Homo sapiens: one gene and its partner. The protein of the gene in region 1 purifies or fractionates together with the protein of each later gene. This does not show direct contact. Each region holds a gene or a part of one and is shown in the gene's direction. Other genes may lie near its edges.

Region 1 (4,509 bases):
TCATATATTTTGTGGCCATATAGTCGCTATGATATAAATCCTTAGATATGTAAAGACTTGCTTTATGACACAGTATGTTAGAGACACTTTTTTGACTCTATCTTCCCTGTATATTGGACTTTTTTTTTAAATGTAAAGACCCTTCTTTATCCCATCGCACTCACCCAGCCATCTACCTAGAGTCTGTTGATGATAAACCATTAGTTGTTTGAAACAGAATTTGCCTTCCTTCTGCCTCTCTTTTTGCCACACATGTAATTCTAAGGTTTTATGTTTTCCCCTTCAGCATACCACTTAATTCTCTTTTTTTTTTTGGAGACAGTCTCACTCTGTCACCCAGGCTGGAGTGCAGTTGCGCGATCTCGGCTCACTGCAGCCTTGACCTCCAGGGCTCAAGTGATCCACCTAAGCCTCCAGAGTAGCTGGGACCACAGGCACACGCCACCATGCCAGGCTAATTTTGTTTTTAGAGGCGTGGTCTTGTTATGCTGGTCTGGCTGGTCTCGAATTCCTGGGCACAAGCGGGCCTCCCATCTCTGTCTCCTCAAGTGGTTGAATTACAGGCGTGAGCCACTGCGCCCAGCTCGCATTTTTTTTTTTTTTTTGAGATGGAGTCTCGCTCTGTTGCCCAGGCTGGAGTGCAGTGGCGCGATTTCGGCTCACTGCAACCTCTGCCTCCCGGGTTCAAGCAATTCTGCCTCAGCCTCCCGAGCAGCTAGCTGGGACAACAGGCACGTGCCACCACGCCCGGCTAACTTTTTTGTATTTTTAGTAGAAACGGGGTTTCCCGTGTTAGCCAGAATAGTGTCGATTTCCTGACCTCGTGATCCGCCCGCCTCAGCCTCCCAAAGTGCTGGGATTACAGGAGTAAGCCACCGCGCCCGGCCTGAGCCGGCATTTTTAAAAGTTGGGTTGCTGGCCTTAGTGCATACAAACGTAAAGGAATTTTAAAAACACATGAGTAACTCAAACGCATTTCTTTTTTGCGCCATCCTGCTATGTGTGATTCGGTTTTTATTCTCGATTTTGTGCGTGTGTGTCGCGACGGCTGGGGACCGACCCAAGAGCAGTCGGACCACGGGCCGCCCAGGGCGGTCTCATCCGTTTATAACCTGCGACCCCGGGGCCTCTTGTGGTCCCGTACCTCCGTCCCAAGCAAAAGCCGGGGCTCTCAGGCACTCAGAGGTGCGAAGGCCCCGTAGACTTGGAGGACGCGAGGAAAACACCTCCAATCACTCTGGCCAGTCCACAGCTACTGCCAAGACTGCTCCGCGCGCGTCCTCAGGAACCGGCGAGGGCCTCGTCGTCATGGTAACCAGATTGCGAACGCGCGTGCGCAAGACACACCTTTGTCACGTGAGGCCGGGCAGGGGGCGGGGCCGGCGAATGCCCGTCCCGACCCGTCGCGCCTCCCCTGTTAGCTCCCTGCCAGCCGAGGCGGGGCGAACCTCTGCCCTGTTGCGTGGGAGTGACTCACAGCTCCCGCCCCTTTTGGCTCCGCTTTCTCGCGGCCAGTCCCTCGCACCACGTGCCCTCCTGGCCGCGCCCCCAGCTGCCCTTTCCAACTGCCTGTTGGAAGCCGCTGTAAAACGTCGTGAGGAGCGCCGCTGCTTTACGGCTGCCTCTCCCAGACTAGAGCCCCGGAGCGCCCACCGCCGTCAGCCGCGTCTTCAAGCTAGTCGGCCCCGCGGAGAGCGAGAGACCCTGCGCACCGCAGCCCTCTCCGCTGCGCCCATTCCTGCCGCCGGCGATGTAACTCGGGGAGGCAGCGGTGCCCGCTGGCCCGGGGTTGAGACAGGCGGCAGGTGCCTGTGAGGCGGGCGGGTGCCGGGGGCCAGCAGGATGGAGGAAAGCATGGAAGAGGAGGAGGGGGGCAGCTACGAGGCGATGATGGACGACCAGAACCACAACAACTGGGAGGCTGCGGTGGACGGCTTCCGGCAGCCCCTGCCACCTCCGCCGCCCCCCTCGTCGATCCCGGCCCCTGCCCGAGAGCCTCCGGGGGGGCAGCTGCTGGCGGTGCCCGCGGTCTCCGTGGACAGGAAAGGCCCCAAGGAGGGGCTCCCGATGGGGCCGCAGCCACCGCCGGAGGCTAATGGGGTGATCATGATGTTGAAGAGCTGCGACGCGGCCGCCGCCGTGGCCAAGGCGGCCCCCGCCCCCACCGCCAGCTCCACCATCAACATCAACACCTCCACCTCCAAGTTCTGTGAGTCCAGCCTTTCCCTGCAGCCTTGGCTTTTCTCCACCTCACTCGGACGCCGAATCCACCCCCTCTTGGAGAAAGCTCCGCTTCCTTTGTTTCAGGCCTCGGTCTTTCCTCTTCTCCCCGTCCGCCTTCGCCTCCCTGCCTCCTTCCCCCTCACCGTCCCCTCCCCCTCATTTGGTGTCTGCGGCCAGCGCCTGAGCGGCCCTGGCTTCTTGTATTACCTGGCCTAGAGAGGCAGCCTGGTACACACGGAGCCCCAAGTTCGGTCAGTGCGATCCCTATCACAACTGGCAGTCTCTCAACATTGGGAAGCTCTTTTCGCACCCGTCTTCTCTTGAAGTTTCACCCTCAAAGTGAGGGGAAAATAAGGCTGCCTGAGTCTCGTTAGGGAAAGGCCTTCAGTCTTCTGCAGCCAGAGAGAGAAAAGAAATCTGGCAACTTGTGTTCTTGTGTTTTTGGCCAGGCTGTGTTAAACAAGTAAGGAATTTGAAAGTTGACCTATATCTACACCTTGTTCCTTCTCTACTGTGTTACACTTTTGCATCCTGCTAGGGAAATAATGAGTTGCTTTCCGATGCAGTGGCAGCTCCGACATCGTCTTGAAGCTAATAATGCATAAAATCACTTTTCAGAGCTTACACTCATAAGAATAAGCCTTTCAGGATGGGTTATGTCTTGTGTCCAAACCCAAGATTGGGTTGCATGTTGAACTTTATGTTAGTAGTCTGTCTTAACGCTCAATTGCACGCATTAAGATTTAAGACCAAAATCTGTTTTGTAATCCGAAACTGCCTCTGACCAGGATATATGTATGCTTCCATAGCTAGGAAAAGAATGTGCTTTTACTTTGGTTTGTGTGTATGTGTGCGTGGCGGTGGTGGTGGTGATAGGATGTTGAAAATGATTGTGACCATCACAGCCAGGTTTTTCTCTCCTATTATTAACTGCAAGTTTTGAGTGGCATCTGGTAAAGCAACTGGAGAGTTCATTTCTAGCTACTAATTTTATGAAGCTGTACTTGTCCAGTTAGCTGTGCAGAGAAAATATTTGCCTTGATGCAGATAGTCGGAATCTTACACACTGTGTGTGGGAACAGCGCGTAATTTTATTTGCCCCAAGATACTGCCTTAGTCAAAGACATTGATATGTACGTTTGGTAAGATTATATACGCTTTTTCTCCTTATTCATGATAATCATGTTTATATTGTATAGTTTGTGTGTTGAAGGCTGTGTTGTGGAACCAGACCTCCTGTAGAGTGGCAGAATGACTTCACCTGAGTCACGAAGGAAGATTGCCTTAGTAAAGTTCCTTTGAAGAGTTCAAAAAAGAGCATAAAGTTAGGAACAGAAATCAGTAAAATTGAGAACAAAAGGATTTGTCACACCAAAAGATTATTTTTGTGAAAAGATGAGTAAGCTAGGCAGACAGACCTCTGATAAAAACGACAAGAAAAAAAGATGCAAATAAATGAAAAATGGAAAATAACTACAAATATCAGATTAAAAAAAGAACGTTATGAACTTAGGCTGATGAATTTGAAAGCCTAAATGAAAAATATAGTTCTTAGAAAACTAGTAAATGTGAAAATTGGTATCAGAAGAAATATCTTGAACTAATAAACTGAAATGGTAAAGATCTCCCTTTTTAGAAGCTCTGCATCCAGATACGCTGATGAGTTCCACCATACTTTAACACTTAATTCTTTTTGCAAGTTGCACTGGAAAATAGAAAAAATACCAAGTTCATTTTATGAGGCTTGTGAAATCTTGATTCTAAAACAGATAAGGACATGTAAGAAGAGAAAATTATAGGTCTGTTTTACTTAGCATAGAAATGAAAATACTGCAGAATAAATACTCGCTCATCAAATCCAACAGTGTGTTACAGAGTCCTGATCCATAGAGTTAGTCCTAGAGATGAAAGCATGGTTTAACATCTACTTATCTAATTTAGCTCTTTAATAGACTAAAGGAAAAAAATTACGATTATCTCAATTGGTGCCCTGAAATCATTCAACTAGATCCAGCAGCTATTTATGATAAAAACTCTTGGTAACCTAGGAGTACAAGATAACTAGATAAAGGTCATTACCAAAAACCTTCAGTAAATAATAATACTTAATGGAGAAATTTTAGATACATATACTTTAAGATCCGTAACAAGATAAGGATGCTCCTGTCATTACTACTGTTTAGCATTGTAGGAAGGTCCTGGCTAACATTATAAGGAGCAAAAAAATAAGGTATAAAGATTGTAAGGGAAGCAATAAAAGTTATTATTTGCAGATAATATGATCAC
Region 2 (4,262 bases), on another chromosome or scaffold:
ATCACGAGGTCAGGAGATCAAAACCATCCTGACTAACACGTGAAACCCCATCTCTACTAAAACTACAAAAATTAGCCGGGCGAGTTGGCGGGAGCCTGTAATCTCAGCTACTCGGGAAGCTGAGGCAGGAGAATCACTTGAACCCGGAAGGCGGAGCTTGCAGTGAGCCGAGATCGCGCCATTGCACTCCGGCCTGGGCAACACAAAGAGACGCAGTCTCAAGTAAGTAAGTAAGTAAATAAATAAATAAATAAATAAGAATAATGTTTCATTTTCTGTACTACTCGGGAGCCTGAGGCAGGAGACAGCCTCCTCAATTCAGGAGAATTGCTTGAACCCGGGAGGCAGAGGTTGCAGTGAGCCGAGATCGCGCCACTGCTCTCCAGTCTGAGCGACAGAGCGAGACCCCGATTCAAAAAAAAAACTGTGATTAAGTGGTTTCTAAAACCTAATGTGTAATACTTGCAAAGATAAAATTGCTCTTCTACCAAACCTTTCTTTCAATATTTCTGAAACTGTAAAAAGTACTTTAAATTCTAATGTTATAAGCAAAGTAGCTAAAATGGGGCTGGTAATTTTTCCCCTCTGCTTTATCTTGGGTTAGAGTCGAAGTATTTAAGCACTTCCGAGTATGTAACAGCAAGCAGGTTCACCACACTGGGGAAAATGTCTTGAGTAATGAAAAGAGCACCAAGATAATCTACCTTATTAGGCAATCTAGGCTTTTTTGAAAGTTATAAATGAAAAGAAATACAGTATAAAAGATGTCATTTGAGTATTATCAGAGTAATTTTGCAACGCATTATTTATATATTTCAAATATTCAAGGCACCATATAACTGTTCAATTTTATTTCTTTTTTTTTTTTTATTCAAAGCCTACATTCATAGTTGCTTAATGGGATGTTTTTCTTCTTCATATTTTTAGTGCCTTTCAATAAAATATATCATTGCTTAACATCTACATTTTGCTTAACTTTAGATCTACCCACACATACTCAGGCTGAAAATAAATGCTCTTTTACAAGTTAGATTTTGGGGGATTTTGTACGTTTTGCTTTGCTTTTCGGTTTTCATTGTAACCATAGTCAACTAGATTCAGCCATAAGACATCAACACTGACAAAGTGTAGTCCGGACTAGCTTTTGCACTTCCACATCATGATTAATTTATTATTCATCTGGTACCTTCCTATTAAACTTTGTCTTTAGCCTGTGAACTTTTCTTTCAGCTTCCAACAAAGGATTTCATTGCTTTAGGAATCGAGGTGTGGCTAAGTTTTTACCTGGGAGCAAAGGTGATGCAAGCGTTTCTGGTGAGACCTACCCTTGGTTTAGGGTGGGGAGGGACCGCATAACAGACCATCTGTAGACTCCTTCGGAAAGCAGCAGAGACGCTGCAGAGGGCTTTTCTTAGACATCAACTGCAGACGGCTGGCAGGATAGAAGCAGCGGCTCACTTGGACTTTTTCACCAGGGAAATCAGAGACAATGATGGGGCTCTTCCCCAGAACTACAGGGGCTCTGGCCATCTTCGTGGTAAGTCCTGGATTTTCCTAATAATCACAAACTTCCCTGCTTCCTCCCTTGTTAAAGAATATTATATTTGATTGCACAATCTTTATTATAAATTCTAAAAGGAGTGCAGTGGAAATCAACACTTTGAAATGAAATCGTGAAGATTACCAATTTCCTTCTTTTGTTGTTTTTTATGTTGTATTTTACATAGAAAAATAAACCAGAAAGAAATGAGTTTTAAAAACCATTTAGAATTTTTTTTAGTTAATGAATTAAGTAATCTTAATCACAGGTTATATTTTCCACAACATTTTCACTTTCTTTAAAGTTATGCTTTTACTAGTTTTTCTAACCCACAAACAAGAACACAGGAGCCACTTCTATTTTCCAAGATTACATGTCTCTTAGCATATAGCTAAGAACTCTACACGCCTGGGCTTGATACCTGACACGCTTTTAAAAGTAAAAAATCGCAGAATTAAAATCAAAGCAGTGTTTGACTCTAGAGAAGTTGGGAGGATTATTAAGTAAGTATTTATGTTTAGCTATTATGTGCCAAAAGAAAATGTCAGCCTTTGGGGATGGGGGGAAAGACATACAACATTTTAAAGCCATTTTTTTCAGAAAAGTAATACTTCTGTTGATTGAGAAAGTCGTACATAGTATTATCTAAAAGAGAAACGGAATGTTACAGACTGTTTAAAACCTGGATGTTACAGACTAACTTACTCCTTAACTGTGTTCTTATAGCAAAAAAAAAAAAAGAAAAGTCACAATATTATCTGTTACACGGAGATATCAAAATAGTTAAATATACCTTAAAAATGAATGTCAAAACAATTCCTAATGCTAATTTGTATGGTTTCCATGATAAGCTGGGTTGGCCTAGGCATCAATTTACCTCATTTCTTCATGAAAAAAATTGAGATAAATGGACTTCAAGAAGTCACAGGGAGATAGATCTCAAGAAAGGACTTTCTTAGCTCTCCCTAAGATTTTTGTTTTTGTTTTTGTTTTTGAGACAAGGTCTGGCTCTGTTGCCCAGGCTGGAGTGCAGTGGTGCGATCTCCAACTTCTGCCTCTGGGGTTCAAGTGATTCTCGTGCCTCAGCCTCCTGAGTAGCTGAGATTACAGGCGTGCACCACCACAGCCAGCTAATTTTTTTGTATTGTTAGTAGAGATGGGGTTTTGCCATGTTGACCAGTCTAGTCTCAAACTCCTAGCCTCAATGGATCCGTCCACCTCGGCCTCCCATAATGCTGGGATTGCAGATGTGAGCCACTGCACCCAGCCTCTAAGATTCTATTTCTATTACGACAATGTAACTGTGTTCAGTACCTGATTTTATTTGAAAGGAGGATGTTGTTAAAGAGAAATGTGACAGTTGTATGACTTTCCCACCTTTCCAGATGGGAAATGTCTGGGCTGAACCCCAGGTGGTCTGATAACCCCTATGTCCAAGCCAATGGCAAAGCTCAGGAAGTTAGGGGCCATGCAGCATGGGCTGTCGGGATAGTATTGCCATGAGGACATAGGATTGGGCCACCATAAGCTAAGGGGGATTCTTTTTTTTTTCTAATTTGACATATAGGACACTCTCAATTACTCCTCTGATTCTGGAGTGACTGTGACATCCTTATATTGAGGCTAATTTTTATTTTTATATTCTCAATGCTTATTATATCTGTCTTAGAGTGGACATGCAATTGTTTGAAGAATGAGTAAATGAATGATTTAATGAGCCTTCTCTAAACTAAAAAACCCCCGCACAATGTCCCTATAATTCTAGTCATAAAGGAAACTATGAAATGACATGTATTTGGTTCCACTCAAGAAAATTTTACATACACATGCTGTTTAAACAACAGTATAACTTCATACATAATTGTTCAACTGAGTGGTCTAGACCTACTCTGTCCCATATGGTAGCCACCAGCCACATGTGGTTTTAAGCCACTTGAAATGTGGTTGGTCTGAGTTGAGGTGTGCTATTTAATATAAAATATACATCATAATTTGAAGAAGACTTTGAATGAACAAAAGAATGTAAAATATGTCAATAATTTTTTATGTTGATTACATGTTGAAATGATAGTATTTTGGATGTATTAGATTAAGTTAACCGTATTGTTAAAATGCATTTCACCTTTTAAAAACGTTTTAAATGTGACTAAATTTTTTAATTATATGTGGTTCGCATTTGTGGTTTTTAGCTTTCTATTGGACAGTACTGGTCTACTATTAATGCTATTGATAGAAGGCAGTGTCAGTCAGGAGAGAGGCAATCAAGTCTTTATGGATTCAGTGAAATTTGAGCTGATTTGGGATAAGTATAGATGGACGGGCCAAAAGGAGATCTCTTGGGTTGTCAGAAGAGTATAATCAAAGGCAGGCACAGTTAGGATTTGCCTAGGGGAAATGGACACACCAGTATGACTAGCATGACAGTTTGCTTTGGAGAATCTGGACATGAATTGGAAAGGCAGCTGAGGGTCAGATTGAAAAGTGCATTTTGTGAAGGCTCATGGAAACCTTTTACAAGTGGGGAGCCACCCAGAGTTTTGAAATAATGTGGTCATGGGGGGGAAAAGCAATGTTTTCTAAAGCATTCTCAAGTGGGAATGCTCATTTTTTGTTGTTGCAGGGTGGGTTCTGAAAGTTGGCAGATGTGTTTGAAGGTTTTGTAATAATCCACCATCCAATGACCATACATGGGTTGCCCAGAACAGTGAGAAATAATAGCAAA

Evidence for each region.
Region 2: the proteins of CACUL1 (region 1) and DSG3 purify together in Homo sapiens (affinity purification with mass spectrometry; one large-scale study listed by BioGRID and IntAct). This does not show direct contact.

Annotation. Positions count from the first base shown.
Region 1 is NC_000010.11:118,752,096-118,756,604, reverse strand, and holds the start of CACUL1 (CDK2-associated and cullin domain-containing protein 1), read left to right. Parts: upstream 1-1,634; 5' UTR 1,635-1,842; coding exon 1,843-2,209; intron 2,210-4,509.
Region 2 is NC_000018.10:31,446,389-31,450,650, forward strand, and holds the start of DSG3 (desmoglein-3 preproprotein), read left to right. Parts: upstream 1-1,352; 5' UTR 1,353-1,489; coding exon 1,490-1,537; intron 1,538-4,262. UniProt on the Homo sapiens protein: A component of desmosome cell-cell junctions which are required for positive regulation of cellular adhesion. Required for adherens and desmosome junction assembly in response to mechanical force in keratinocytes.